Linked DNA regions of Homo sapiens. The protein of the gene in region 1 interacts with the protein of each later gene in a pairwise test. Each region holds a gene or a part of one and is shown on either strand. Other genes may lie near its edges. The genes, in order: GFM2, FAM107A, TRIM9 and PTCHD1.

Evidence for each region.
Region 2: the proteins of GFM2 (region 1) and FAM107A interact in a two-hybrid assay, tested with the Homo sapiens proteins (one study listed by BioGRID).
Region 3: the proteins of GFM2 (region 1) and TRIM9 interact in binary tests that used the Homo sapiens proteins (3 or more experiments, as listed by UniProt).
Region 4: the proteins of GFM2 (region 1) and PTCHD1 interact in a two-hybrid assay, tested with the Homo sapiens proteins (one study listed by BioGRID and IntAct).

The regions. Positions count from the first base shown.
Region 1 is NC_000005.10:74,742,393-74,750,682, forward strand, and holds part of GFM2 (ribosome-releasing factor 2, mitochondrial), read right to left. Parts: intron 8,276-8,290; coding exon 8,187-8,275; intron 5,389-8,186; coding exon 5,300-5,388; intron 3,774-5,299; coding exon 3,713-3,773; intron 3,466-3,712; coding exon 3,286-3,465; intron 1-3,285.
Region 2 is NC_000003.12:58,562,404-58,567,468, reverse strand, and holds the end of FAM107A (actin-associated protein FAM107A), read left to right. Parts: intron 1-104; coding exon 105-261; intron 262-773; coding exon 774-881; 3' UTR 882-3,352; downstream 3,353-5,065. UniProt on the Homo sapiens protein: Stress-inducible actin-binding protein that plays a role in synaptic and cognitive functions by modulating actin filamentous (F-actin) dynamics. Mediates polymerization of globular actin to F-actin. Also binds to, stabilizes and bundles F-actin.
Region 3 is NC_000014.9:51,091,602-51,099,853, reverse strand, and holds the start of TRIM9 (E3 ubiquitin-protein ligase TRIM9), read left to right. Parts: upstream 1-4,748; 5' UTR 4,749-4,914; coding exon 4,915-5,736; intron 5,737-8,252. UniProt on the Homo sapiens protein: E3 ubiquitin-protein ligase which ubiquitinates itself in cooperation with an E2 enzyme UBE2D2/UBC4 and serves as a targeting signal for proteasomal degradation.
Region 4 is NC_000023.11:23,386,417-23,394,706, reverse strand, and holds part of PTCHD1 (patched domain-containing protein 1), read right to left. Parts: intron 2,177-8,290; coding exon 522-2,176; 3' UTR 1-521. UniProt on the Homo sapiens protein: Required for the development and function of the thalamic reticular nucleus (TRN), a part of the thalamus that is critical for thalamocortical transmission, generation of sleep rhythms, sensorimotor processing and attention. Can bind cholesterol in vitro.

The DNA.
Region 1 (8,290 bases):
TACCCACTTGTTCAAATTTTGGTCAAGTTATTTCACCTCTCTGCCTTAGTAACTCACAAAGATGATAGTAGTATCTACTTCTTGAGGCTGTTATAAAGATTAAATAATTCAAATTATGCTTTAAGAATATATACTAGTGTATAATAAGTATTAGCTATTATTACTGTGCACCTTCAATATTGGAAGTTGATTCTATTCCACACTAATCTTATCCACTAATTTAAAGGAAAATTTTAAATTATCGCAAAATATACACAACATAAAGTTTACCATTGTACTCTTTTTTTTTTTTGATACGGAGTCTGGCTCTGTCACCTAGGCTGGAGTGCAATGGTGCGATCTCAGCTCACTGCAACCTCTGCTTCCTGGGTTCAAGCGATTCTCCTGCTTCAGCCTCCTGAGTAGCTAGGATTACAGGCGCGTGCCACCACGCCCAGCTAATTTTTTTGTATTTTTAGTAGAGACAGGGTTTCACCATGTTGGTCACGCTGGTCTCAAACTCCTGACCTCGTGATCTGCCCACCTCAGCCTCCCAAAGTGCTGGGATTACAGGCATGAGCCACCACACCCAGCCCACTGTACTCTTGCACAGTTCAGTAGTGTTAAGTACTTTCACATTATTGCACAATAAATCTCCAGAACTCTTTTCAACTTGCAAAACAAACTCCATATACATTAATTAAACAACACTCTATTCTCTCTGCCCTTCCCCAGCCCATGGCAACTGCCATTCTACTTTCTGTCTCTGAATCTGATTACTCTGGATCCATGGATTTGGGTTGCTTCTACCTTTTGGCTATTGTGAAGAATGCTGCTAAGAACATGTGTGTGCAAATATCTCTTTGAGACTCTTTTCAATTCTTTTGAGTATATACCCAAAAAGTGGAACTGTTGGGTAATATAGTAACTCCATATTTAATTTTTTGAGGAATCGCCATATTGTTTTCCATAGTGGCCGCAACATTTACATTCCTACCAACAGTGCGCAAAGTTATAATTCTCCACACCTTTGCCAACACCTATTTTCTGTATTTGACAGTAGGCACCCTAATGGGTGTGAAGTAGTCTTATTCTGTAAATTTTATACATACTTATGTATTTCTTATAATTAGCATATTATTAGCTACTGACAGTCTCAGATTCTTTCTGAGATTTCTGTCACATACTATCACATCCTAGAAGACCATGAGACATGGGCAAGTGTGTGTTGGCTCCTCAACTAGATTACAAGATCCTTCTTAAGTTTATTCTTATAGCTCTTCTGTATTAAAACAACACAAACAAACTCAAAGAGGAATGAATTATTAATAAACGTCAATTCCACTTTTATATCTTCTATGCTCCCCAAATTAAAAAAGCAGTATAACAAAGCGGGTAAGAGCTTTAGCTCTAAACAGATTAACCTGGGTTCAGATTCTAGCTCAGCCACTTTATTAGCTGTGTGACAACTTATTTAAGCATTTGAGCTGCTGTTTCCCCATCTGTAAAATAGGGACAATATAAGGTTCTTGTGAGGGTTTAATTAAAAAGTATATGTAAAGCACTTAACCTAGCACACAGTAGGCCCTCATTAACTCAATAACAAAAATAACAATTATTATGTTAATGATAAAGTTGCAATGATTACTACATACAGTCAGGAATCAGTTAGTGACAGGGATAAGTTCTGAGAAATGTGGTGTTAGGTGATTTCGTCATTCTACCAACATCATAGAGTGTACTTACATAAACCTAGACGGCATAGCCTGCTTTTACACCAAGGCTATGGCCTATTACTCCTAGGCTACAAATCCATACAGCATGTTACTGTACTGAATACTGTAGGCAACTGTAACACAATGGTAAGTATTTGTGTATCTCAACATAGAAAAGGTACAGGAAAAATATAGTATTATAATCTTATGGCACTGTCAACATTCATGTGGTCTGTTGTTGACTAAAATGTCATCATGAAGTACATGACTATACTTAAAAAAAAAAACTATGTACAAAAGATAAGTGAAAAAAAAATGAATGCTGAATAAATTTATTTGGACCAATTCAATTTAGAAGTGAAAAATCAAGGGCTCTGATTCAAACGTTTTTCTCTACCATAATATTCAAGAAATTAAGGTATGTTTTATTTATTGCCATATATACTAACAATATAATATAAAATTACAAATATTAACAATCTTGCTATTTTGAAGATTATAATTTTGAAGGTGGATGAGGCCCAGAGCTATATACCAACTATAAAATTGATGGTTTTAAAATTTTCTAAATAATTTGACATCTGGTGAAAAGTAAAGTAAAAGACATGCATATCCTTTGACCTAACAATGCTACTCCTTAGTTTAATCCTAAAGAAACTATTGCCCATGTGCACAAGTAGATACAAAAATGTTCATAGCCACATTGTTTGTAACAGCAAAAAAGAGAAACAACCTCAAAGCCCATCCACAGGAGAATACCCAATAAAGTGTGGTAAAATCATATATTATAACAATATACAAGATTGAAATGAATAGATTATAACTACACATATTTGCAACATGGATAAAGTTCCAACAATGTTGAGCAATGTCATAAAATACAAACAGTAACATTTCATTTATGTAAAGTTCAAAACATGTAAACCTAAGTTCTTTAAGGATTTATGGTAAACTAAAGAAAAGCAAATGAGGCCCGGCGCAGTGGCTCACGCTGGTAATCCTAGCACTTTGGGACGCTGAGGTGGGCGATCACCTGAGGTCAGGGGTTCGAGACCAGCCTGGCCAACATGATGAAACCCCATCTCTACCAAAAAATAAAAATAAAAAAATTAGCTTGGAGTGGTGGTGCGTGCCTGTAATCCCAGCTACCCAGGAGGCTGAGGCAGGAGAATCACTGGAACCTGGGAGGTAGAGGCTGCAGTGAGCTGAGATTGTGCCACTGCACTCCAGCCTAGGCCGCAGAGCAAGACTCCATCTCAACGAAAAGCAAATGAAAGAGAAATATTGAAATAATAATTTGGGGGACAGGTAGATGATTAGTGGGAGAGAGAGATGAACAAAAAATGGCACATAGCATTTACATTGTATTAGGTATTATAAGTAATTTAGAAATGATTTAAAGTATAGAGGAAGACATCAATAGGTTATATGCAAATACTACATCATTTTATATCAGGGACTTGAGCATCTGCAGATTTTGGTATCCACAGGAGGTCCTGCAACCAATCCCCGAGAGATGCTAAAGTATGACTATATTTTAAGATAAGTGGTGCACACATTGGTGTTCATTTTATCATTCATTATACTTTACTTGTTCAATTAAGGCATTCCTTGCTTCAGTTGTTTCCTTCAGCAATTCAGGATCATTCATTTCCAAGAGGGGCTTTCTCTCAAAGTCTTTTCCATCATTTGAATTGCAATTCCAAAGAAGTTTTTCTTTCATTACTACATCCACCACTCCTTTGAAAGTTTTGGCTTCACCAATTGGTAACTGTAAGTCAGAGTGAGATTAACATTATTACATGATCACTCACTGAAAACTACAATGATGACAAGTCTTTTCTAATTGTACCATTTTCCCCAAAATGTCTATTATCACCATTACTATAATCTGTGGCTATTTCTATTTATACCCCAACTTCTTCAAAAATGATGAGATAGCTTTGGAAATGTATATATTGTCACAAAATAAATTAATGAGGAAACTGAGAAGAAGCTGATGCTATTAACCAATTTACCTGTAAAAGCAAAGGCTTTGCCTTTAACTTCTCTCTGATGCTTTCAACTGCATACTTAAAGCTGTAGAAAGCAAAATAATTATAGTTAAAAACATGGTTAAAAATTCTTTACCAAAGGTATCAAGAGAGGAAAAAAAACTCTTTCAGGTTTTAAGAATGTTTTCTAAAATTTTAACTCACTTTATTCTCCTTAACGCTCACTATTTAACAGTTTTCCATAGGAAAATGTCTGGAATAAACTTTTATGTCAATTTCAGATATCAGTAATTACCCTAATCCAGCCACAGAGCTGTTTAGGGTATTATTATTGTGAGCTTCGCATAACTATACTTTGCAATTAACATTAAATGAATTGATCAAGGTAACAAGGATAATAAAGTGCAGTTGGGATTCCAATGCAAGATTTGTGATAAGCCAAGGATTCTTTCTTCTACAACTAGGTTTACTACCATACAAGGCAACTAGCTTTCTTCCAAGAGCCTGCCTAGTCTTTGGCATTCTTCACATCGTATGCTACGCTATTCATTTCTATGCTAACACTGCAGCTGGCTACCTATAGAACACATGCCATCTTTGGCACACAAGCTGATTTACATGCAGGTCATTCCGGTCCCATTGTTTTTCAGAACCAGCCTATTTTCCAGTCATATCCCTCCCCATTGCCAATGGCACTGCCTGACAATAAATAAGTACTTCCATCTACCACAGGAACTCCAAGCAGAAAAGGGTCAGAACTTGAGGCTAGTACATTTTAAAGGTTGCTGGGCTATTAATAATCAAGACAAGGTTCTTTAAACAAACAGCCTCAGAATTACTATAGAGAGGGAGATAAACACAAAGCATATTAATTACTGTGTAGTTTTAGGGGAGGTATAGTTTATGTTTCATTTTTGCCATTCTCCCATCACAGGCCACAATCTCTCCCTATCACATTTGTTCTAGAATTTTTAATATTCTTGATTCTCTCCCTTTCACATTTTCTCCAAATCTTTCAAATATTCTTGATTATCTGAATTATATTCCCAGGACAATGCATCCACCACTCTGTAAGTCTCTGACCATGACCAATACATCTCAGCATTAACTCTCTTCTGCCCCTACATGCAGGTCTTACAGCATCTACATTCTCTTCTTCCAGTTCTTTATTGACAGTATCTTACCCAGTAGCTAAGAAAATCAGAGAATATGGAAGAACACCTTCAAATGCAGGAAACAGTTCTCTATTCTCTATCTTTAGCGATGATGGGAAGCGCCATACCTTCAGCAATATAGGGACTATACCTGTGTTCTAAAGAGAATCAATGGAATCATCAAGAAGCCACTTTGATCTCAGAAATATGATTCAGTCTCTCTATACTAGAAACAGGATGATTCACCATCTATCAGCTATTACTCCCAAATTGTTATATAACCTATGGATTAGCTGCTTTGAATTTTTTTATGGGAATAAACTGGGATTCCATGGAATATTTATACCCTATAATACAATAGGAAAAAAAATAGCTATTCCTAAATTTAAGTTATAGTTCATTAAAAGCTCAAATTGTAGTTTCACCCTGATAAGCCAATGAAACACATTTCAAATACCTTGCTCCAGTTTTGTCCATCTTGTTTAAAAAACAGATTCGAGGTATATTGTGTTTATCAGCTTGCCTCCATACTGTGAGAGTCTGGGCCTAAAGCAAAGATGAGGAAAAAAATACATACTGAACAAAAGTAACTATGTTACTAGACCTGGAATGAAGAGATCCAAAAATCTACTGTCAGATAAATTGGGCCCTATTCTAGCAGAGAATTAGTGCAACTGCACTTATATTTTTAGGGTCACTCTTTAGCTATCAAGTTAACACAGCCGGGAACGTGATGAAGTGTGAAGGGGAGTGTGCTTCAAACCACTTGAGAATACTCTGGGTGAACTAGGTGGCCACACAAAGAGAATTAACACCTCAGGAGGTACTGAGAATCATGGAAAGTGAACTTAACTGAGAATCAGGAGACCTACTTCTTGTTTGGCTTCACTTTTCCTAGTAAATGTCATATGACACTGAACTCATTTAATGTCAGGTTTCTGATCTATGAAATAGGAATTTTGCCTTAATTATTTCAGACACTTATTTTGAGGTAAAAGAAATATAGGAGTGTACTATAAAGCAGCCAGTTTATTTTTTAGGTAAAATTTATATACAATAAAGTACAGATATTAAGTGTATAGCTCAATGCGTTTTGATAAAAGTACGTTTGTGTAACTACTACCCCACTTAGAACATAGAACATTCTGTTACTCCTGAAATTTTTCTCATCCCTGTCTCCTATAAGCAACCTGTCTTGATTTCTGTCACCATAGCTTCAGTGTCTTATTCTTGAACCTCATACAAAATAGCATGGCTTCTTTGGCTCAACATGTTTTTAACATTCATCCACATTGTTAGGTATTTCCGTTCTTTTTAATTATACATACGTACCAGTTGGCTTTCCTATCCACCAGTGCGGTGGCTCACGCCTGTAATCCCAGCACTGTGGGAGGCTGAGGCAGGTGGATCACTTGAGGTCAGAAGTTCAAGACCAGCCTGGCCAACATGGTGAAACTCTGTCTCTACTAAAAATACAAAAATTAGCCAGGCGTGGTGGTGCACGCCTGTAGTCCCAGATACTCGGGAAGCTGAGGCACAAGGATCGCTTGAACCCGGGAGACAGAGGTTACAGTGAGCCAAGATTGCACCACTGCATTCCAGCCTGGGCGACAGAGTGAGACTCCTGTCTCAAAATAAAATAAAATAAAATAAAATAAATAAAATAAAATAAAATAAAAAAATAAAAAAAAATAAAAAAAATAAAAAATAAAATAAAATAAAATAAAATAAAGAAACTTCCAAATAGTCTTCCAAAGTAGTTGCATTATTTTGCAGTCTTTTTAATTTTTTTTGAGACAGGGTCTCACTCTGTTGCCCAGGCTGGAATGCAGTGGTGCAATCAAGGCTCACTGCAGCCCCAACCTCCCTGCTGGGCTCAAGCAATTCTCCCATCTCAGCCTCTGGAGTAGCTGGGATGACAAGTGCACGCCACCACACCCAGCTAATTTTTTTTGTATTTTATAAAGATGGGGTTTCGCCATGTTGCTCAGGCTGGTCTCTAATTCCTGGGCTCAAGCGAACCCACCTGCCTCAGCCTCCCAAAGTGCTGGGATTACAGGTGTGAGCCACCATGCCTGGCCTCTATTTTGCAGTCTTATCAACAATGTGTAAGATTTCTAGTTGCTCCACATCCTCACCAACATTTGCTATCACTCTTTTTAATTATAAGCATTCTTTTGGGTGTGAAATTGAATCTGTGATTTTAATTTGCATTTTCCTGAGGACTAATGAGATTATACATCTTTTCATGTGCTTACTATTCATTCACATGTGTTCTTTTGTGAAGTGTCCATTCAAGTTTTTTGTCCATTTTCTTCTGGGTTATTATTGATTTATGGTTCTTCATATAGTCTGGATACAAATCCATGGTTATAGATACGTACTATAAATACTTCAGTATTTATTTCCCAAGAACAATCATATTCTCTTATATAACCAATACTATTATTGCATTCAGGAAATTTAATATTTGTATAATATGTTTATCTAACATTACAAGTATCTTCTCATAGTCTATTCCTTGTGTTTTTAATTTTTTTGTTTTAATGAACAGCTGTAGTTTTGATAAAGTTCCAGGAATCAACTTTTGTTATTTATGTTTCATGCTTCTTATGTCCTCTAAGAAATTTTTACCTACCCCAAGGCTGTAAAGATATTTTTCTTCTAGAAGCTATGTATACATAACTTAACACTGTGATCCACTCCAAATTAATTTTTGTGTATGATGAGGTATGTGTGTGAGGCGTGGAGGGTGAATATCATAAATTTTCAAAGAACAAAAACATATTGCAAATCAAAACAAAAAACTCCCACCATTCCACCTGCCAGCTAAAAGCTCATTCATTGTTTAAAACAAGTGCCTTCTCCTTCATGAATTCAGCAACTTCCTATTCAAGCACATTTCAATCTTGTAAGTAATGCAATCTGTTTGAATGATTAAACGTCAAATTTATCTAAAGTTACAACAACAGAAAAATGGAACTATTAGGAAATAAAGTGACCCAGAAAGAAACAGAAATAACAGTGTATAATCAATCTCACACCACAGTGTCTTCTGCCAGAATCCATTAAACTATGGCAGGCTAACTTGTTAGCTCAAAAGTAAGGTAGAATCTCTGATCTCTCAAAGTTCTTGACACCAGCTTTCCTATTTCTCCTTTTACTATGAAATATCTGAGATTACATGTAGATTACATCTCAATATAAATTCTGATTTCCTTTTACCATTATTTGATTTATGTGAACTTACCAAATAGATGGTTACAGTTAACTAAATTTGACATATTCTACTTTTTAAAAAATCATGCTGTTCTAATTCCCTTTACTTTGGCAATATTATTTACCTCTACACCAGCAGAGGCATCAAATACAGCCACTGCACCATCCAACACTCTTAGGCACCGCTCAACCTCCAAGGTAAAGTCCACATGACCTAAGAAAAAGATAA
Region 2 (5,065 bases), on another chromosome or scaffold:
CACAAGATAATAATGGGGGTTGGTGTCACCGCAGGAAGCAGCCCTGAGGCTGGGGGAAGCGGGAAGGTGATGGTCTCCTGACAGCTCCCCACTTCCCACCCCAGGGGCCTTGGTGTGGACAGCAAGCCAGAGCTGCAGCGTGTCCTAGAGCACCGCCGGCGGAACCAGCTCATCAAGAAGAAGAAGGAGGAGCTGGAAGCCAAGCGGCTGCAGTGCCCCTTTGAGCAGGAGCTGCTGAGACGGCAGCAGAGGCTGAACCAGGTGGGTGATGGGCACCCAGCAGGGACCACGCATCCTCCAGGGCTGTCCTCCAGGGAGGAGCTCTGCTGTGGCCACAGCTAGTAAGAGGGAAGAGGATCAGCAGACAGAGCACTGGACTAAGAGTCCACTCCTGGCCTGAGTCCTCCCTCTGCCATTCACTTTGCTAGGTCCTTAGGGCGAGTGGCTTCCCTGAACCTCAGCTTCCTCACTGGCCCAGTGTACTGCATGCTGATTCTGATTTCATTCTTATAACTGTCTTGTGAGCCAGGTGGCATTCCCATTTTAGAGATGGGGAAGCTGAGGCCCAGAGGGGGTGAGTGATTTGAACCAGGCTGCACAAGGAGAACTCAGTCTCATGCTCTGTGCCCCAGCTACCAGGCTGATAGCAAAACTCATCCCCAGGTTGGTTCTGTTTCCCCACTGAGTGGGCCCTTGGTCCAAACTCCACAGGTTTTCAGAGTAGGAATCCCCCTAGCTCCACCCACTTCACTCTCTGCTTCTCCCTCCTTCAGCTGGAAAAACCACCAGAGAAGGAAGAGGATCACGCCCCCGAGTTTATTAAAGTCAGGGAAAACCTGCGGAGAATTGCCACACTGACCAGCGAAGAGAGAGAGCTGTAGGGCCAGCTGCCGGGCTCAGGCCACTGCCCACCCTGGCCTGGACAGCCTCCTTCAGCCCTTCTGTACCTGGCAGCCCTGGGCCCCAGGCCCTGGGACGTCTGTGATGTTCCCACCTGCTTCTGTAGAAATGTGTCACCCCAGAGGGCCTGGCTCTCCCTGGGAGGCTGGGGCCCCTAAGCTCCTAGGTTTTCCTTCCAAGCACCCAGCCCTCCTGCTCCAAGAGGGATAACCTGCACCCCTCCCTGCAAGGGGTTCAGAGCCCAGCACAGGAGCTTTCTCTGGCAGAATTGAGGAGGAAGAGGTGGCCCTCTGACTTGACAAGCCTTCTGTTCTGCCCAGGCCTTCCCACCAGGAATCTCCGAGGCTCCCCAGGGCCCCGCTTCTCCGTACACCCCAGCTCCTAGGTCTCAGAGAACTCCCCCACCTGTGGTTTTACCTGCAGCCAGCAGAGCTTAGCTTCAAGGACACCTGCCTTCAAAGCCACTGAGGGGAGGAAGGGCAGGGCAGACTGCAGATGGCCTTGTTGCTGGCATCCCGGCCAGGTGGGCGGGGACTAACAAAGACAGCTGTTTAGGGTCTTCTCCCCTCACCCATGCTTTCATCATCCCCTCCGCACAGCCTCCCCGTCCAGGCCTTCTAACCACACCTACCCAGGGCTGCCGCATTCCTGCACTCAGAAGTCTGCAGCGGTGCCTCACAAACTTGATTGTGCATAAAAATCACTGGGGATCTTGTTAATACAGCTTCTAACTCAATAGATCTGGGAGATCCTGCATTTCTAACAAGCTCCCAGGTAAGGCGGAGGCTGCTGGTGTGAGGACCATGCTGTGAGCAGCAGGGCGAGAGTGCCCAGGGCTGATATATATTGGAAATATCACCCCTGAAGCCATCGCTGGCCCCCACCTCCTGTGGACTGATGCCCCAGGGATTCCCACCCCACTTCTGCAACCCCAGGTATCCTTCATTATCCACCCCATCCCAGACTCCCACCCCAGGGATTGCCCGTGAAGACTTTGGCCTAGCAAATTGTGTTGGTTATGTGAGTGTTGTTTTAATCAGAGATGTACATGATTGCCAATCTGCATTTCTTACCAGTGTGACCACACTGTTACGATGCAATTCTAGCCAAAAAAAAAAAAAAAAAAAAAAAAATTTTTTTTTTTTACTTTTTCCTAGTCTTATGGAAAGCAAATATACAATGATTTTCAGTAGGCTTCTGGAATAGAAACAGTGGTTTGAAGACCCCACTGCCACCTTTATGGACTGGCCCCTTTGAGTCTGAATCCCCGGCCTCTGTCACCTGAGACCCAACCCCTAGCTGGGCCAACTCCAGTGAATTCACCCATTTTTCTTCTTCAGAAGGCCTTTCCTGTGTGAGACCCACATATTTTAACCTTTTGCTCCTATCCCATTTTTAAAGAATTAGAGAATAAACCAGGCCTGTTTCTTTTCCCCTGAAATCCCTGCCTCTGGCTTCCTAAACCCATCATCTAAGGTGACAGAGCAGTGCTGGAATAGCATCTCCTTTCACTTTCCCAAAACTGCCACAGATAGCTGCCACTGGCATGCTCTTTGATTCCTGGAAGCAAACGTGGGACTGTCGGAGGAAAGGGATTGTTCTGGTCTTACTCATAACTGGGTGGTTTGAGGGTGACTGAAGTCGTGCTTTTCCTGTGTGTGCTGCCAGCACAGGGCTGTAAATGCAGATATTGCGCCTGTGTGCGTGTGTATAAGTCAAGCTCCAAGAGGCTCCTGAATGTGACTGGCGTGCTGAGAATGTGTTTACGCTGTTTAATGTCTGCCAGGTGAGGGTTACACTGAAGATGCACAATCCCTAAAATAAAGATCACCACTTCCCCAAAGAAGCAGCCCTCGGGTCCATGTGTTGTTCAGACATGTGAAGAGAAGCAAGACAGAGGGTCTCAGATGGACGAGGGCTCTCCAAGGGAATGCCTGGGGATTCACCCAGTGGTCCCCAGAGGTGCTCCATGGAGGCAACAAGTCATTCCATGAAGCCCCAGAGGTAGAAGGGACCTCAAGCACCACGCCCTCCAGGGCAGCCGTGCAGACGACCTTGGTTCACTTTTCAGGGGTCGTCCCAACTCTGTATCTCCAGCCACTCCAACTGTGGAGGCTGTAAATCCAGATTTTCACTGTTCCAGTCTCCTTTGCAGCTTAGGATGGCTATGTGATCAGGTGTGGCCAATGAAATTGAAGAGGAAGTCTACCTGGGCTTCTGGGAAAGCTTTTCCAATAAAAGACACAGGCATGGCTAACACCTCCCTGGGCCTCTTCTTCCTACCTTGATTGAGGGTGTGATGCCTGGAGCCACAGCAGCCACTTTGCTACCATGACAAAAAGGCCAAGAGAATCACAGAGTCATTGACCCTATCATTATTTCACCAAGCCAATACCAGCCGCCATCCTTCTCCAGAATTCTTGTAAATAAAATAAATCCCTCTTTGTTTAAACCATTGTTGGTCAGTCTCTGTTACTTGCAACCAAAATCATCCCTAACTGACACAGAAGGCCAGTCCCTGCCTGTCCAAAATTACCTGCAGGCTGTGCTAAAAATCCAGATTCAACTTTCCCATCAGAAGCCTATTGGATCAGGATCCCCAGCTGCAATGCCTGGGATCTGTTTTTCTGCACCTTCCCCATATAGCCTACCTAGCATGAGTCTGAAAACTGGTACTTGGACATGACTAAAGCACACATCATTCAACAAATATTTATCGAGTTCCTGCTCCATGCCAGGATGCATGCCATAGGCTGGGACACAGTAGAGAACAAAGGTGCAGTGCCTCCCCCTCATCTGATGACTGCAGTGGTCTCCTCCCAACTGGTCTCCCCTACTGGCCTTGTCCCTACACCCTGTTCTCAACAGAGGAGCCAAAATGATCTTCCTCCAGTCTAAGGCAGAACTTGCGACTCTGCACAGAGCCCTCCCTGGGCTCCCAGTGGAGTCTCTCCTGCATTCCAGGTGGTCCTGCGAGTCCAGCTCCCTCTTAGCCTCCGACCTCCTTCCTGCACTCTCCCACTTGCTCACACAGTCCCAGTTGTGCTGGCCTCCTACCCTCTCCAGGCATGCCCCATCTCCATGCCTTTCCACCTGCTCTTCCCCAGCCAGGAGTATCCTTCCCTCCAAGAGCCTCGCGGCCCACTCCCTTGCTTTCTTCAGGTCTTTTATCACACTTCTTCTAAATGAGGTCCCCTTTAGCCACCCCATCTAAAATCTCAACTTCTGCAGTCTTCCTCTGCCTGCCTTGCCTTCTTTTTCCCCCTTACTGTTTATCACCATTGAACATATTCTATATTTTACTGATTTGTCTCGTGTGTCCCTCCTAATGATAATGTCAGCTCCATGAGGGCAAAGATTCTTGTCTATCTTGTTTACTCTGAATCCCTAGTGCACAAGGCCTAGAGAAGATGCTCAGGAAGTGTTTGTCGAATGAAAGAATGAGAAACCCCTTCTCCCTCTGCAATACACCTAGCCTTCTCCCAGGTCCAGCCCATAGCAACCAGAGAAGGCCCTACCTGCCTCCTTCCTCCACGGTTTCCACCCTGACCCACAGATATCCATTTGCTGGGAAGCCCTCATCTGCCCACTTGGGCATTCATCAATATACCTGGGCCTCACTGGCATCATGCTGGCAGGACCCGCATCAGAGCCGCATGGCTCCTGCACACCACAGGAGTGTCTAGAGAGTCAGATCATCCCTGAAGGCTGATGATGAGGCCATCACTCAAGCCTGGAGACCATGGAGAAGCAAAAGGCTGCTGCAGCAGCTCTGACTTCAGACCTCTCCCTAAACAGGGAGCCAAGACAGCAACCCCCGTTCTTGCGGGGGCCACACTCTCTCGGGTCCTGGTTTGGGTTTGCAGAATGCCCCTGTCAATGGCAAACCAGCACTAAACACAAAACCTGGGAGAGAGGGCTGACCTTAGGATGTGAAGGGACCCTCCAACCCTGGTCCTGCAGCGTGTGTGTCACAAGAGTCCTCACACCACAGGAGATTTGGCAGGGCAGCCTCACCACACTTGAGATTATACTGACTCCAAACCCTGTGAGGGTGGGACCCTGTCTGATTCTGCTCACCTTTATCCAGGGCCCTGAAAATAGTTAGGCACCCCGGAAAGTTGTGAATGGATGTCAGTAATGATCACTTTCACTCATATCTGTG
Region 3 (8,252 bases), on another chromosome or scaffold:
CTTGCAAATATTCTTCTTTGACCAGACAAGCAAATGATCTTTTGGCAGGCTATAAAATATTTAAGCTGTGCTATGGTTTGACTGCGTCCCCGAAAGTTCATGTGTTAGAAACTTGATCCCCAGTGAGAAGGTGTCAGGAGTTGGGACCTTTAAGAAGTGTTTAGGTCACAGGGGCACCACCTTCATGGATGGATTAATGCCATTACCATGGGAATAGGTTTCTTATCGCGGGAGTGGGTTTCTTATAAAAGGAGAAGTTCAGCTCCCTCTTGCCCTCTATCTTGCCCTCTCTCTGCCCTTCCACCATGGGATGATGCAACAAGAAGGCCCTCACCAGATGCCAGTGTCTTGATTTGGGCCTTCCCAGCCTCCAGAACCATGAGCCAATATATTTCTGTTTCTTATAAATTATCCAGTCTGTGGTATTCTGTTATAGCAGCAAAAACGGACTATGACAGGGTGACTTCTTTCAGTTTTAGTAGGCTGTAGAATTTGTTTCACATTATTTTCACCTGCAAGGTTGTAGAAAGCAGTCCAATGCCAATCTGATTCTTTTTTCTTTACAATTAAGTTGTTCTTTCTTTCTGGGAGCTTGTAAAATGATCTTTTTTTTTTCTTCTGAGTTAAGAATTGTGTCTGTATATAACTGGGTCTTTTTTCATTAATGTCATCTATAATTCTAAAATCCTTTCAATCTGTAATTTTATATATTTTTTTGGTTCAGAGAAATGTTTTCCAACTATGGTTTTCCCTCCACCTGTGTTATTTCCTCATTCTGAGATTCCTATTATTCACAAGTTAGGTCTTCTGGATTTATCCTCTAGCTCTCTTACCTCCATATAGGATTCATTAAATCTTCATTTTCTCCGATTCTCCAGTCTACCCTTCCCAAAGCATCAGTAATATATTACTTACAATAAGAAATACTACAGAATTTGAATATGGCCATCTTCCAGTAGTACTAAATGGGAAAAAGCTCATAATTCACTATAATAATCAAATAATTTAAATTACCAAAGGATATCAACAATAAATGTTATTAAAGAATAGTACAAAATTATAAGTATAAAATTGAATATTAGTAGACTAAATGGGGTAAATTATTCCATAAAAGAAGTTTCTTCAGAATTTCTATTGAGAATAGAAACATCACATTTATCACTTTTCAAGTGATGTACTTTTACAAACCACATGCAGCAAGACCCTTATTCAAATACCTTAATAAAATATTTTTATATACATGTCAGATAATCTTAAAATGTTAGAGCCTAAGATCAGCTCCTTTCACTGATTTCCACCCCCCTCCCACAACTAAGGATAGACTACTCTAGGAGAGAATGTGGAAAGAAAAACCTTTCTTCTCTGTGTTCATTCTTTAGACTCACAGAGACTGTTTTGTTAATAATCAAGCATTGTAGTCAAAAGCAAATAGGAAAGCAACTCAATTTTTCATTGAAAAACATTTATCAAAAAAAGAAAAACATTTATCTTTTTTTAAAAATGCAAAAGCTGTTGTTGCACTTTAAATGTAATTGCTCTCATTGCTAAAGAACATAATTTGGGTGAATAGTAAGTTTCAAAGGATAATTAGGCACTTTACACAAAAGAGAACATCTGCAATCATCCCAGGAATGATGAAATTACAGGGCTATCAATCCTTGTGCTTCAGGGCATGGACTGATCACCAGCTGGAAGACAGAAGATATCCCCTCAATAGTATAATATTTCTATAATATTACCAATTACATTTCAATTTTTATTCCCTTTTAAACATAAGTCATTGGGGGGCTATAAAGCACATTATGGCCAAACAGTGCAACATGAGGGGAAAATCTTCAAAGGCCTTCAAGAATATTTTAAAGAAATGGATTCAAAGAAAAATAGTAAACTTTTGGCTGGGAGCGCTGGCTCATGCGTGTAATCCCAGCACTTCGGGAGGCTGAGGCAGGTGGATCACTTGAGGTCAGGAGTTTGAGACCAGTCTGGCCAACATAGTGAAACCCTGTCTCTACTAAAAAAAAAAAATGTAAAAATTAGCCAGGCATGGTGGTGCACACCTGTAGTCCCAACTACTCAGGAGGCTGAGGCACGAGAAACACTTAAACCTGGGAGGTGGAGGTTGCAGTGGGCCAAGATTGTGCCACTGCACTCCAGCCTGGGGAACACAGCAAGACTCCAGTCTCAAAAAAAAAAAAGGAAAAAAAAAGTAAACTTTCAGAGAAGGTGAGCAGAATATCATAGAAGTTAACAAAGAACATTTTGGGTACTTATCACATTCAGAGCTTGAAGAGAGTAGAACTCAGCACTTGTTGAATGAATGAATGAATGAATGAATGAACAAAGGAACAAACTTATATGTGTCCGGGTTCCAATCCCAGCCTCACCATATTTGACCTTGAGTACTTAAGTGTCTTTGCTTATCTTCAGTTTATTTATCTGTAAAATGGGAATAATTGTGCCTACCTCTTCTTGTAATTACAGGGATTTAACCAAGTAATGTATACAAATAAATAAATCCCCTGTTTGGAACAGGGTGAACTCTCAACAAATGAGTCATTTTAAGAGCTCTCCTAGGATTGACTGATTTAGCTAATTCCTAAACAAACAGATCTAACAATGAAATCATCTCAAGCGACTTCATAATAGACCAAATCTTTCTATATTGACTATATTATAAACCTGTGTTGTTCTTTTTGCGAACCCAACACTGCATTACACCATGAGACATCCTCTAAAATTCTTCTTTACTTTGAACTAAGCATAAACTTTCTGCTAATAAGATCTCTTAGATGATATACTATTATAAGCAGAGTTCAAACTCATACAAAGTGTAACAGCTGCTCACCTTGCTGGTCCAAGATATTGTGACTTGTGGTCAAATGCATACAAAAGCCATAAAAGGACACTCCTTTCTAATATTTTCTCAATAATTAACTTTCATTACAATTCAATTAATACTATATTGAATATAATTATTAGTAATTTCTCTTGGGACCTATAAATTAAGTGTATCCTGCAAGTGCAGCTAATGTCCCAACCATACCTGAAGAAATTTTATCTATGTCTGTAAACAGAGTGCATATACCTTTGGATGCTCTGGTCTCAACTAGTTGAAAGCCAGCTTAAAAATAAATCACGTCACATTTATGATTAACATGGCTTTAAATAACAATGGGGACTTTATTCCCCCACACAATGATCAACTACTGTTCTCACTGCAACTAAAGATGTTGAAAAGATAACCTAGTTTATTGGACAATTTCTACAAGGGCAGTGTAATAAAATGTCCATTTTTTTTCTGGACAATAAAGTACTTTTAAATTATCAACATAGCTGCATATAATCAAGTTATCTCCTGTCTGGAAGGTGGAAAATTGGAATATTTCTAGAACTTGCAAAGAGTTTTTGTCCTTTACTTCATGAATCATTCAGCAAAAGCCGGCTATGTACTATTTCAAATGTTACTACCTCAGAATGTCACTTGACTCAAAGATTTTCCTTTCCTTTTCTTCTTCCTCCCTCCCTTTCTTCCCTTCCTTCCGCCTTTCCTTTCCCCCCCCCTTCCTTCCTCCCTCTCTCCCTCTTTCCCTTCTTCCCTCCCTCCCTCCCTCCTTGTACAGGGACTAACACTAGAATCACCGCCTCACCATGCCCCTCGTTGGAAGAAACAGAAAGGCACACGATGCTGTAAGCTATGGCAGATGCCCAGGGCACGTGGGGTTGAATAATGCTGTTTGGAGTGAAACACTGAGACTCCGCAGTCACACAGTGATTCATTTACAGAGCTTTACTAAACTACGGGCACTCAGAAATAGACAAACTGTTCTTGCCTCAACCGAACCAAAGGCCCAGCGGGCCTCGAAAAAGCTCAGCCAGGTGCTTTGGGAGGCCGCGAGGAGGAAGAAGGATCCGTGGAAGGAAGCACGTTCACACCACGGCACTGAGGCCTCTGGGCCGAGCTATAATTTAAAGCATGAAACGAAGGGGTCATAGATTCTGACTAATGCTGACCATTTCCATCGGTTACCCAGTTGAATCTCATGTCGACACTAGGAAATCGACTTTATACATGCTCTTTAGGAAACGAGGGACGCAGGATGAAAGAAGCCAAGAGTGTCGCCAGGGCTTGCGCCAGCGCCGTCAGACTCCCGGGATGGGGGAGCTCCAGGGCACGGCGTCAGCGGATTCACGGAGAAGGAGAAAAGCCCCACTGCCGTGCAGAAGCCTAGGCCCGGGTGAGACGCCTGCGAAGGCTGCCAGCAGCGGAAGAGAAGGGGCGTCCTCCGTGCTGCGCAGCACTCGCCCGCGGTAGGTGGGCGCGGAGCTCAGAGCTGGGAGCCAAACGCAAACGCTGGCGAGAAGCCCCAGCCCCCTCCGGCAGCCCACTCGCTGCGGGGAGGGGTTTCTCACGCCCCCAGCTCCTGGGAGACTGCACCGGAGGTCGGAAGTAAGCCGGGCGAGGATGAATCATCCCGCCTAACTCCTCCTTCCCGGTCCCCTAGCCTCCGCACGCCGGCCCCCTTCAGAGATCTTGCAGCCGCGAGCGAAGACTGCCCTATCCTCAGACTCTACCGAACCCCCTGTGGCCTGCGGAGACGAGGAGACGGACGGGTCTGGTGGCCAATGAGAGCTTCGATCTCTTGCCCCCCGCCCAATGGGCCGCTGCTCATGGGCCGGGGCGGGACTAGGAGGGCAGGTAGGGGCGGTCCGGGCTGGCGCGCGGCGCGGCGGCTACGCGGCTGCGGCTCACAGAGCTAGCGCCTCTCTGGGTGTCCGTGCCAGTGCTGCGCGGGAAGGCACCACCACCACAGCCGCCGCCGCTGGCCAGGGTGCTGGACAAGACGGGCCCGTCGGCCACCTCGCCAGCTCAGGCACCCGCTGCAGCCGTCGCTGTCTCCTCCCAGACCGGTCCCCATGGAGGAGATGGAAGAGGAGTTGAAATGCCCCGTGTGCGGCTCCTTCTATCGGGAGCCCATCATCCTGCCCTGCTCTCACAATTTGTGTCAGGCGTGCGCCCGCAACATCCTGGTGCAGACCCCAGAGTCTGAATCCCCCCAGAGCCATCGGGCCGCGGGCTCCGGGGTCTCCGACTATGACTATCTGGACCTGGACAAGATGAGCCTATACAGCGAGGCGGACAGCGGCTATGGCTCCTACGGGGGGTTCGCCAGCGCCCCCACTACCCCGTGCCAGAAGTCCCCCAACGGCGTCCGCGTGTTTCCCCCGGCTATGCCGCCACCGGCCACCCACTTGTCACCGGCCCTGGCCCCGGTGCCCCGCAACTCCTGTATCACCTGCCCCCAGTGTCACCGCAGCCTCATCCTGGATGACCGGGGGCTCCGCGGCTTCCCCAAGAATCGCGTACTGGAAGGGGTAATTGACCGCTACCAGCAGAGCAAAGCCGCGGCCCTCAAGTGCCAGCTCTGCGAGAAGGCGCCCAAGGAAGCCACCGTCATGTGCGAACAGTGCGATGTCTTCTACTGCGATCCGTGCCGCCTGCGCTGCCACCCGCCCCGGGGGCCCCTAGCCAAGCACCGCCTGGTGCCCCCGGCCCAGGGTCGTGTGAGCCGGAGGCTGAGCCCACGCAAGGTCTCCACCTGCACAGACCACGAGCTGGAGAACCACAGCATGTACTGCGTGCAATGCAAGATGCCCGTGTGCTACCAGTGCTTGGAGGAGGGCAAACACTCCAGCCACGAAGTCAAGGCTCTGGGGGCCATGTGGAAACTACATAAGGTGAGTCCTAAGAAAACCCACTCCTAACTCCCTGCGTCTCCGATCATCCGGTTTTGCAGCAGACGGTCCCCGTCTCTTGCGCACAGCGCATCCCAGTGGGGGCGCAATGCAGGTGCCTTCGATGTTTACCTCCCTGGTCTGGTGCATTGCAGGAGGCATGGGGGAATCTTAACCGGCGCACGGGGGAGTTGAATGCCCCCACAGAGTTGTTGCGGGGATGCCTTAGAGCGGGTCTCTCGGGGCGCGCTGCCTGCGAGCGGGACTCAGGGCGCCCCCTTTCCGCGGCGGGTCTGCAGCCAGTGGCCGCGGCCAGTGTGTGGGAAAGCACTGCATAGCTGGGTAGAGCCGCGCCAGTGCCCAGGGCCGCTAGGCACGCTCGAGGGCAGGGCGGGCTGCGAACCCTCGGGGAGGGACTGGGATGGGGGCGGTGGGGTCGCGCGGACGGCGGGAGTCTGTCGCTGCTGGATAGGCGGACCTGGTGAGGCACGGCGGAGGGTCGGGGAGACGCCGCAGGCGGAATACTGATGAGCCCGGCTCTGGGCCAGACCTGGCTCTCGAGCTGGAGAGAACGCGGGGTCCTGGTGCCACGTGCTCAAAAGACAGAGCGGAGAGGGCAGCCAGCGGTCGCCATGGCAACGCGACGTGCAGGCTTGGGCCTGAACCCTTCCGGAGTTGGGACCTGAGACTAGAGTGTCAGGACCGGAGTTTGCGCAGTCGCGGCCTGGAAGCCAGACAGGTGCATCTCCTAGGGAAACCTTCTCCTCCCAACTATACACACACCCACTTCTCCGGAATTCAAGCCCTTTCCTCTTTCAGTAGTTATATGTGCAAACTTTGGGACACCTGTTACCAGATTTATCTTTCCAGTCTCTTTTGATGATATTTCCACCATGGCTAGACACGAAGAGGCTTTAGCAACATATTCTGTCGTGCCACTCCTCTGCTCAAAACCCTCCAATTTTTCCCACGCTTCTCAGCCTGTCCTACATGACCTCTTCCATTTTGGCCCCTTCGACCTCATTGCCTCCCACTTACTCCCTCTGCTCCAGCCACACTGCTTCTTACTGTTCCTCAAACGACGCCAGGCACCTCCCTACTCCAGGGCCTTTGCATTTGGTGTTCATTCAGCCTGAAGCTCTCTTCCCCAGTTACCTGAGATCCGAATGGGTCACTTACCTGCATCCTTCAGCTCTTTGCTCAGGTATCATCTTTGCAGCGCCACCCACCCAGACACCCGCTAGTTCCCTCTCAGCTTTATTTTCCTCAGTAGTATTTATCCCTGTGTGGCATGCTATATATTTTAATTATGTTATTTTTTGTATTTATCTATTGCTCCCTGTACACACACAGACATAAACGAAATAAGCCTCATGAGGAAGAAGATCCTTATAATATGCCCACACTGCTTAGAAGGAAGGGAGCAACTCTTGAGGAGATGTGCATGAATTTGCTTTTCATTTTTTAAATGATCCATTTAGTTGGGGCTGTGGAGTGCAGGGCAGGGATTCAGGATGGTTGGAAGGAGCTTTTCTTTACATCACTGAGTTGCATACCCAAGGATGAGATGGAGCAGTGAAGATAGTGTCCAGGCCTCAGCTGTGGCCTTGCTCAGAGTCTCCCAGAATTCCTTGGAGACTAGAAAGGGTAGCTTTTGCAAGTGGCCAACTGTGGAGTTAAGGCTGGAACATTGATATTTTGTTTACAGCAAGAAAAAAATGTCATTAATTTTCAGCAATCAGTGAAAGTTTTCTCAACTCCTTAACCCGGTTGAATGTGATCCATGTTTACAGTCATTCTATTCTCACATATAACCTATTAAATCATATTAGTACTGATGGGGATTTCATTTAGCACAAATTGAAGCCTAACTGGGCACACACCACTGTTTTCAGAACAGTCGAATTTAAATTTTTGAAAATGACATTTAATTTTGAAAGTTTTCAAAACTTGAGTTCACAGCTAGTTTTTTATTCATATTTTGATTTCACTTTTAAACTGCTAATTATAGTCCATGTTGAATTGCCCTACAAAGTATCCTTGGAACTAAAAAATTAATCACTCTGTCAGGAAAAAGAATTTAGAGCCACAAGGTAATTAGGATGGGTAAACCACAACATTATTATTTTTTTTATGACAAGCCTATCCTTGATCTATTAAGACCAAAAGAAACCTTTAAATCTCTGTCAAGCCCCATGTCAATTTGAAATGTTAAATCATTTGTTTTATTGGCAATAGAAATTATGAGTAGACAGACACTGGTGCTGCCTGGGTTGAGATTTAGATATCTACCTGCCACAAAAGAATGTTAAAACCCTTGAAACATGACATAAGTAGGCTAGAAGACCATTTATTCTCTGATCTTTTGCACATTTTTTCCAAAACAGTAAGGACACATAATTTTTGTTCAGTCAATATGAGGATTACTAAACTGCCAAGAAAAAAAATAAGACAGAAGGATGACAGATTTTAACATTCACTTGTCATCTGTTAGATGAACAACAAACATTACTCCCCCA
Region 4 (8,290 bases), on another chromosome or scaffold:
AGTGTTAGGGAGCTAGGTGAGACAGCTAAAACCTCAAACCACAGACCATGACTGGAGCTACTGCTCTACAGAAGTTCTGGAAGCCTTATTGTTTGAACAATGCTTAAAGGTGTTTCTGCCTTGGCAGTTGACCTTTCAATCAGTGGGTTTTGTCACAATGCCAGCAACATCTGCAGTTTGGATAAGGCAGGATCCTGCTTGTTAATAAGCTTTCTTCTACTTGATCTTAGTTTAAGAGACTATAGGTCTCCCAGGGTGTGTGTGTGTGTGTGTGTGTGTGTGTGTGTGTGTGTGTGTCTATGTGTGTGTGAATTCTCATAACAACTCCTTTGTTTTAAAGACTGAAAATATGCCAGGCCCATTTCTCCCCACTGTCCTTTCCTTTTTTTTTTTTTTTTTTTTTTGGCAATGCCTGTTTCCTATCTTTAAAAAAGGGAAGAACTTTGAATTTAATTGTTTCATTAACATAATCTCTTTGGTCTTGATAAGACCTAAGGTGAAAATATGCCAAGCAGACATTATCACACTGTTGTAATTTGGTCAACCACACGGGTACTATCGATATCTACCATTTCTACACACTCAATTTCCTCCCGGTTCTCAGGATTTTTCTTCTCTTTCCTTTTTTTCTTAGAGGGTGGCAGGAAAGTCAGTATCACAGGTAAAATGGCAAAGCAGTGAAAGAAGGTGACAAATGCTATTAAAAACAAGCACCTGAACAGTGTACAGGTCAGATTTGAAGGCACAGCTGCAAGAGGAATCAGACCAACAATATAGCAGAGGTAACTCTGTAAAATAGCTACCCCATGCACTTCCAGGGCATTTTTTACCCATTTAGTTCTTGTGAAATCCTTGCCCAGAACAAATGTGGATAACATTGGAGCACAATTGTCAATTGTGTAATTAATTCCATAAATTAAGCATAGCACAGAAATGCAGTCCAGTTCTACTTTCCATAATGTCATGAAACCTATCACTCCAAACTCCACGGACACAACTGTGAGAGTGATCCAGACGTTAATCAGTGAATCTGCCACCAGGAATGCCGAGAAGAAGAGCAGGAACAAAGCACTGATGCAGGAGTTGTGCAGGGGGGCTCCCAGAGAGGAGGCATATCGATCCATGTATACAAAGGACGGATTGAAGACGATGAACTTCACCTTGGAGGTGACAGAAAGTCTCCTCAGGGTTTCCAAGAGATCATAGAGTTCTTCTCTGTTTGTTTCCATGGTCTTGGCCACCAAAAACATTCTGGAGGCCACTACATCGACCTCATCATTGTATTTTTTAGAGAAGATGATGTCCTCTTGAAAATGTGAAAATTGAGGGGCTTTCAGAAAGGAATTCCTCAACATGTCTGTGAAATTTTTCTTAGGCAAGCCAGTGGATACATTGAGTTTCCGAAGGTAATTTAAATAGCTCTCAAACCAGGATATCCGCACAAACCCCTTGGTGTATTCTAGAACATCTTCTTGGACACTAGTGTTCCAGTATTCTATAGACTCATATATGTAAAACCCAATCACAGGACTGTAGTTGCTGAAGTACTTTTGCTGGGCAGTAGTGTACTCAATGGTTTGTGTCGCGGTTGCTACAATGTTACTAAGGTCTGACCCTTCACTGACCTGCAGATAGCCCATTAAGGCAAAGGAAATATAAATAAGGTAAAAGAGAACTACAAAAGGCTTGACATAGGTGTTGGTTATCCAGTCACAGTAATAGCGTTTGAGGAAACATACCAATAGGTGACTCTCGTAAGTGTTCGCTTCCTCGCCTTCAGCTGTGTCCTCACTGAATCTGGCCGTCAGGAGAAACCTGTACCATGCCGGCTTCTCCTGCAATGCCTCAGGCTTTGGGACTTTTCTACAGAAGATACTATGCTGGTAATTGTTTTCTATGTAGCCAGTGAACACTAGGCTGGAACCATAAAACGAGAGTACATAGAGGTAGTTGAAGAAGATTGCAATACAGGAATTGCAGCAGAAAATCCTGGCTGCCTCAATGTTCGTGAAAGGGCTGGCCCCTATGCCAAAGGTGACCAGGTACATGGCAGTGGTGAGAGAAAAGGAGAGCATGGAGTCTGCATAGACTGCTGCAGTTCTCTCTTTAACATGTTGGTCTTCTCTAGTTTTCCTCCAGGAGGATAACATTTCAAAAGTCCCATATAATCCATGACCTAAGAGGGCAGAAAAAGACCAGAGCAGAAGTTTAAAGAACTAATCTCTTAAGAGGGAAATCAACTTGATTATGAGGGACTACTGGGTCAAAGGAAACGTAATCAACCCTAGTGGTGACGGGTATGTAAATGCCAATGATTTCTCCTATGCGGAGATAGACCCATGTTTTTATGAATCGTAAATGTTAATGGATAACGAAAGGGCAGCTAGAGAAGCAAAGATCTTCATATTCCCTCTGGCTTAAGAAAGTTCTCTTCTTTGGAGTGTTCCACCAAACAAACAGCACTTAGATGAACTTTTGCCTATAGAAAGCTGAGTAGAGCCAGTCATGGTGGCTCATGCCTGTAATCCTAGCAACTTGGGAGACTGAGGAAGGAAGATGACTTAAGACCAGGAGTTTGATACCAGCCTGGGCAATGTAGCGAGACCTCATCTCTCAAAAAAAAAAAAAAAAAGAAAGAAAGAAAGAAAAAAGAAAGAAAAAAAAAGAAAGAAAATGAAACAACTTAGCCAGGAATAGTGGCTCATATCTGTAGTCCCAGCTACTTGGGAGGCTAAGGCAGGTGGATCTCTTGAGCCTCGGAGTTGGAGGCTGCAGTGAGCCATGATTGTGCCACTGCACTCCAGCCTGGGCAACAGGGCAAGACCCTGACTCTAAAAAGAATAAAAGCTGATTAGACTTGTGCATATGTCTCTTGGGGATTTTTCCCATTAATAGCTTAGAGTTATTGGTGCAGTTTGGTTGGTGGAACGCTCCAGAGAAGAGAAGATGTCTGGACACTCATCATTTTGCTTTCCGTCCCCACAAGTCTGGCTAGGGGTCAGTGCAGAGGAAGATAGTGGGCAGAGGGTTCTGAGTTAATGTCCTGTCACCTCATTTAAAATTTGCCAACTAGAGGGTTTTAGTGATAAAGAGGCAGTGTATTTCATTTGAGTCTTGACAGGAAACTAAATCACAGCCCCCTCTGTTTTCCCTCCCCAAATATCAGGGCAGGAAGCAATAAATCTTAGAAAGAGGGAAGCAAAATAAGTAGGAGTGAAGAAGTTTCAGTGAAGAAAATACAGAAAAAATAAGATAAATATGAACTCTCCTGGTTATTGATAAAAATTAGGATTCAGGTTGAAGGTTTATGACTTGCAATTTGTCTTCAGGGATCTGTTTGACCAATTTGGTTATTCATACATGACTTATCAAGCAGTGATATAATACGTCAGCAGCGACTCTGCTAGCTTCTCCGCGCTATTTGATAGTGGCATCTGTGGGAAAGAGCCAGATCAGTAACCCCGCTGCGTAACTGCTTAGTGCCTTCGCCTCCTGGTTTAGTATTTCAGCAATACTGAAATAGCAGAGGTACAGTAAATGCTCATGTTCTAAACTCCATTCTGCTGCCTGGAACCTGATCTAGCATGACTTCTACCACCTCTCGTAGTTGGAGCCAGACATTTCCCTACTTCGAGTCCCTGTGTTTCCAGGCCACTGCAACATTGGAAGGCTCACCAAAGTGACCCGTTGTGGATTTCGATAACTCCTGTCTTGGCAATGGGGATCAGCAGATCTAATTTCCTGCTTCCATCGCCTTGGCATATTCAATCCCATTATTGAGGATAATAAAATCTTTACCCTGTGGTACAATAGTCTTGTATTTAAAAAGGAATTTAAAATCTCCAGCCAAGCATAATGCTGAATAAAGTGAGTCACTGTTATCTTGTGTGTACAATAGCTAGGTGTACATCTTCCCTCATGCCCAAGCTAGTATTTATATCCTTATTGTGAAGTCCTGGCCTCATACCTGAAATGCCCATTTCAAAGTAATGATTTAGGCCTGTTTCCTCAGAGGAATTTGGCATTTATCTTAATTGACTAGGCATCGTTTTACAGCCACTTTTAGAAGTCAGGTCAAGACTGTCAATTTGTTAACTAGCACCGAGGCCCCTATTAAATTGAAGGCACCTAAACTCCCCAGATATGAAGTAAAAAGTACACTCATTGACTGGCATCCTGTTGTTAATTATGCTTAGGTATTAACATCTAGTCTGGAGAGGGAACATGATTAAATCTGTTTCTAGTATATTTTCAAGATGGACCCACTGACCTTTAATTAAGTAACCATTCTCTTGACAATGAGGGTAAAAAGAGAATACTTCTGAGGCACTGTCCCTGAAGAAATAATATTGTTTTTTTTGTTTTTTTTTTTTTTTTCCTGGGGCCATGTAGAGCAAGTAAGCTTTGGTGGGCAAAGCACACTTCAGGGGATCACTATAAATGGCAAATAATTTTTTAATGATATTTACTTGCCAGAAACAAAAAATTTAAACAGGGTTTTAGTACTGAGTTATTAAATATGGCAAGAAAATAAAGCATATAGCGGAATTAGAATTAGTCATATAATAGAACTTAAATCTGTTTTGCAGTTCTTTTAAAAATCAGTGTGATGTTTTATAATGACATTATCTGACCCTGATTTTTGGAAAATACAATAAGAATCAATTTCATACCTTGCTGTTGAATAATCTTAGAAGCTAATTGAGAAAAGGAATTTGAATTAACAGAGATATTAGGTGACAAGACTGAGGCTCCAGGGTCAAGAATGAAAGTAATCAAAATCAAGGAAAGGTGGAAGTAGGCTGTTAGCTTCTCTCTTGAGTTCTGTTGCTGCATTTTAAATGCCTTGTCCTTCTATAGTTTGATCTTTTATTTTGAGTCCTGGCTCTTTTTGCATATGTTCTTGGTTTGGGGGCAGCTCCAAAGAGAATTCTAATTTTCTTCTGAGGGGCTTTTGGAAACGATGCCTTTCCTTAGTTCTTCCTTCTTGCTACAGGTGTGTACATGCAGCCACTCACAGAAATCAGAAGAGGCCCTGAGAAAGAATTTGTTCTAACCGATCACTCAGCATTTGTTGCTAGTTGTGCCTGACTTTGCCTCCAAAGGCCCCGACCACCATTCCTGATAGGTCAGATTCCTTTCTCAAGCCACACCTCTCGAGCAGATTGCTACACCCGAATCCCCAAACTGGAGTTCTACAGCATCTTACAAGAGCCCTTTGGATTTCTGGGACAATTGCTGATACCATAACTGGGCCTCCTTCCTGAAGGTTTGTCAGTCAAGGGAGGGACAAGTGCTAACATAGCTGTGGTCACCTCTTAAGGATTAACAGCCTGGAGTGCCTGGCTGGCAGCTGTCCTGGCTCATAGCTGGGTATTTTTGCTGAAGAGGTCGGCCTGTTATCCTATAGGAAAGGCCATCGGTGAGGACTCTTGTGTTCTGGCCTGGATTCAAGGGGAGACACATTCCAAAAGCCCTAGGACACGAGGACCATCCTGCCCTCCAGAATGCCGGAATTATATCCGAGTTCCCCTTGGAACTTTCAAGGGTATCCTTTTAAATGTAAACTCCTCTGGGACAGTGGTCTACTGAAGCAGCTTCCCTTAGGTCTGGGGAATGGGACAGAGAATGGACATGGGAATGGAATAAAGAGGAAATGGCAGGTAGGAGAATTTCACAGAGACGAATTTCTTCAGTTTTTCCTTCAGTCAGGTCTGACCTTATCTTTTACTAGCACTCCAGAAACTGGGCCACCTGGAGTCAAGGAGAGGCAGAGAAGATAGATTTTGGTAGGTTCTGTTCCTCTCCACTTTCCTCTTTCAGTGGATGGCTACCTCCTTTAGCATCATCATCATTCATTGCTTTTTTTTTTTTTCGAGACGGAGTCTCACTCTGTCTCCCAGGCTGGAGTGCAGTGGCACAATCTCTGCTCGCTGCAGCCTCGGCCTCCCGGGTTCCAGCGATTCCCCTGCCTCAGCCTCCTGGGTAGCTGGGATTACAGGCACATGCCACCACGCCCAGGTAATTTTTGTAGTTTTAGTAGAGATGGGGTTTCACCGTATTGGCCAGGCTGGTCTTGAACTCTTGACCTCAGGTGATCTGCCTGCCTCGGCCTCCCAAAGTGCTGGGATTCTATACAGGCATGAGCCACCACGCACAACCCACTCTCCTAATTTTGGGGCTGTAGTTCAGCAAGCGGAACTCTGACGCCAAATCTTACAGACGTAGGCAAACAGATATTGCATGTGGACTGAAGATACTTTTCAGAGGTCTGACTGTTGTTTCCTACTTTTTAAAAAGGTGTTTTAAAAGCAAAAGTACTGCTGTTTGCTTTGCACTCTAGTTTTAAAAACTTCTCTACAAAGTAGGAGTTCTATAAGCTTCTCTGTTAAATCTGACCAGTGGGCCTATGTCATTGGCACAAAGCATGACTTTGGCAAATAACAATTTCCCATCTCCAAAGTCCCAAGTCTGTTCACAAGGACTCCCTGGTGACAGAACTCATGGGGTGGGGCCAGGGCAGAGCTACCTAAATACAGATTTTGATTTTGGTCAGTAGGGACCCTGTGGTGTTATTGGGAGTCATGACTCATCATTTGAGGGCCAGGTCGCAGCCTGAGACCTTGGGGTAAAAAGACTATATATCACAGTGAGGATATCAGGAACCTCCACATCCTGACATCCTCACATTCCAAGGATTACCCTGGATGATACAACATCCCAGGGGATTCCTTCTTTTACAGTCACAGTGCAGGACTGAGGAGTTGCCAACGGGAACTGTTAAACACATACTGATTCTATCAGATTTTGAAGATAAAAATGCTTCTAAAGCATTCTCTTGTCCTTTAAAAGCATATTCAAGATGTTTGTTTCTATTTTTGTTACCCTGCATGTCTGTATTGTTACATGCATAAGAACAAATGCATATCAGTATGTAAAAACACATACACACACACATAAAGAGAAAGAGAGAGAGAGAGATTGAAGGGAGCGCCAAGTTCTAATTATTCGTGAGTGAATACTCTGAGGCAGCTCGAGGTTTTTGTCAGGCCAGCAGGGCTCTTCACTAATGTTGAGGCAAAATTTGGGCCGGGAGTGTGATTTTAAAAAGAAAACTGCTTTTATTAATTTTATTTGCAGTACACTTTGGGGTTGTCATCTAATAAAATAAAATACTAAAGAATTTAGGCTAATAATTTTTCTTATTCTCAAAAGAATTTTTATATCTGAATGTGTTGTTAACTCTCAGACTTTGGAGCAAATGAAGGGAAAAAGAAGCACACATGATAAATAACACTAATGGCGGAAAAAAAAATTCAACTGGCTAATCCTCCCATCACTGAGGGTGACTATCAAGCACCCTCAGAGATTAATTCTGTCACCCAGAACTTTCTGGGGCCTGACCAAAGCCTTCAGGGTTGTTTATAATCCGGTAAGACAGAATCTACTAACAAATAGTTGAGAGTTAACCTTTCTTTACCCAGTAGATATACTTCTGGAAAGTTGCTCATAAAGTGAATAATATTTTAAATGTATTTAGTGGTTTTGCTATTGGAGACAGTCTGGGTGATTTTTTTGTTGTTGTTTGGTTTTCAATGAATAATCGTAGGCAAATTGATCTACTTTGTATAATACTTCTGGATTTTGTAAGTCAGATTTTTCTTCAGTCCCAGATTTTCGCGCCTGTCCCAGTATACATAGCCACAACACAGCAGCTGAGAGATGCCGCTGGGTGCTACTCACATTTTAAACCTCTCCACACTAGCAGGATTTCCTCATCCTGAGTTCCTCAAAGTAAGGAATGGCTAAGAAGGAGGAAATGGGATGGCTTGCTGATTGATGGATGATCTTTCAGTTTCAGTGTGAAAACATTTAATATCATGAGTCAATGAAGCTGTTTATAGCATGCCTGGGCAGTGCCAAATTTCATATATGGAAATAAAATTACTACATTCGTCTCAAAAATTCAGAGACTATAATCCATAAGCAAAATCTGCTTAAAGCCTATTTTATTCTTAGAAAAGCTTCACTAAGTAGCTCATGTTTATAAGATGCCTGTTTTTCAATGTCATCCACATAAATTCATGATTTTTGTGTTTTTGAGAAGAAATTTAAAGTGTATATATGTCTGGGTTGAGTAACATCTATTTTCAGGGAGAAGTTTATTAATTGGGTTACATTTACACTTTGCCAGTTATAAACATTTACTTTACAAGCTGAATTGTTTGGTTTATTGCAGCCTGTTTTGTCTCAGAGTTAAGAGTAAGAATAAAGGTGTACTCTGTTTAAG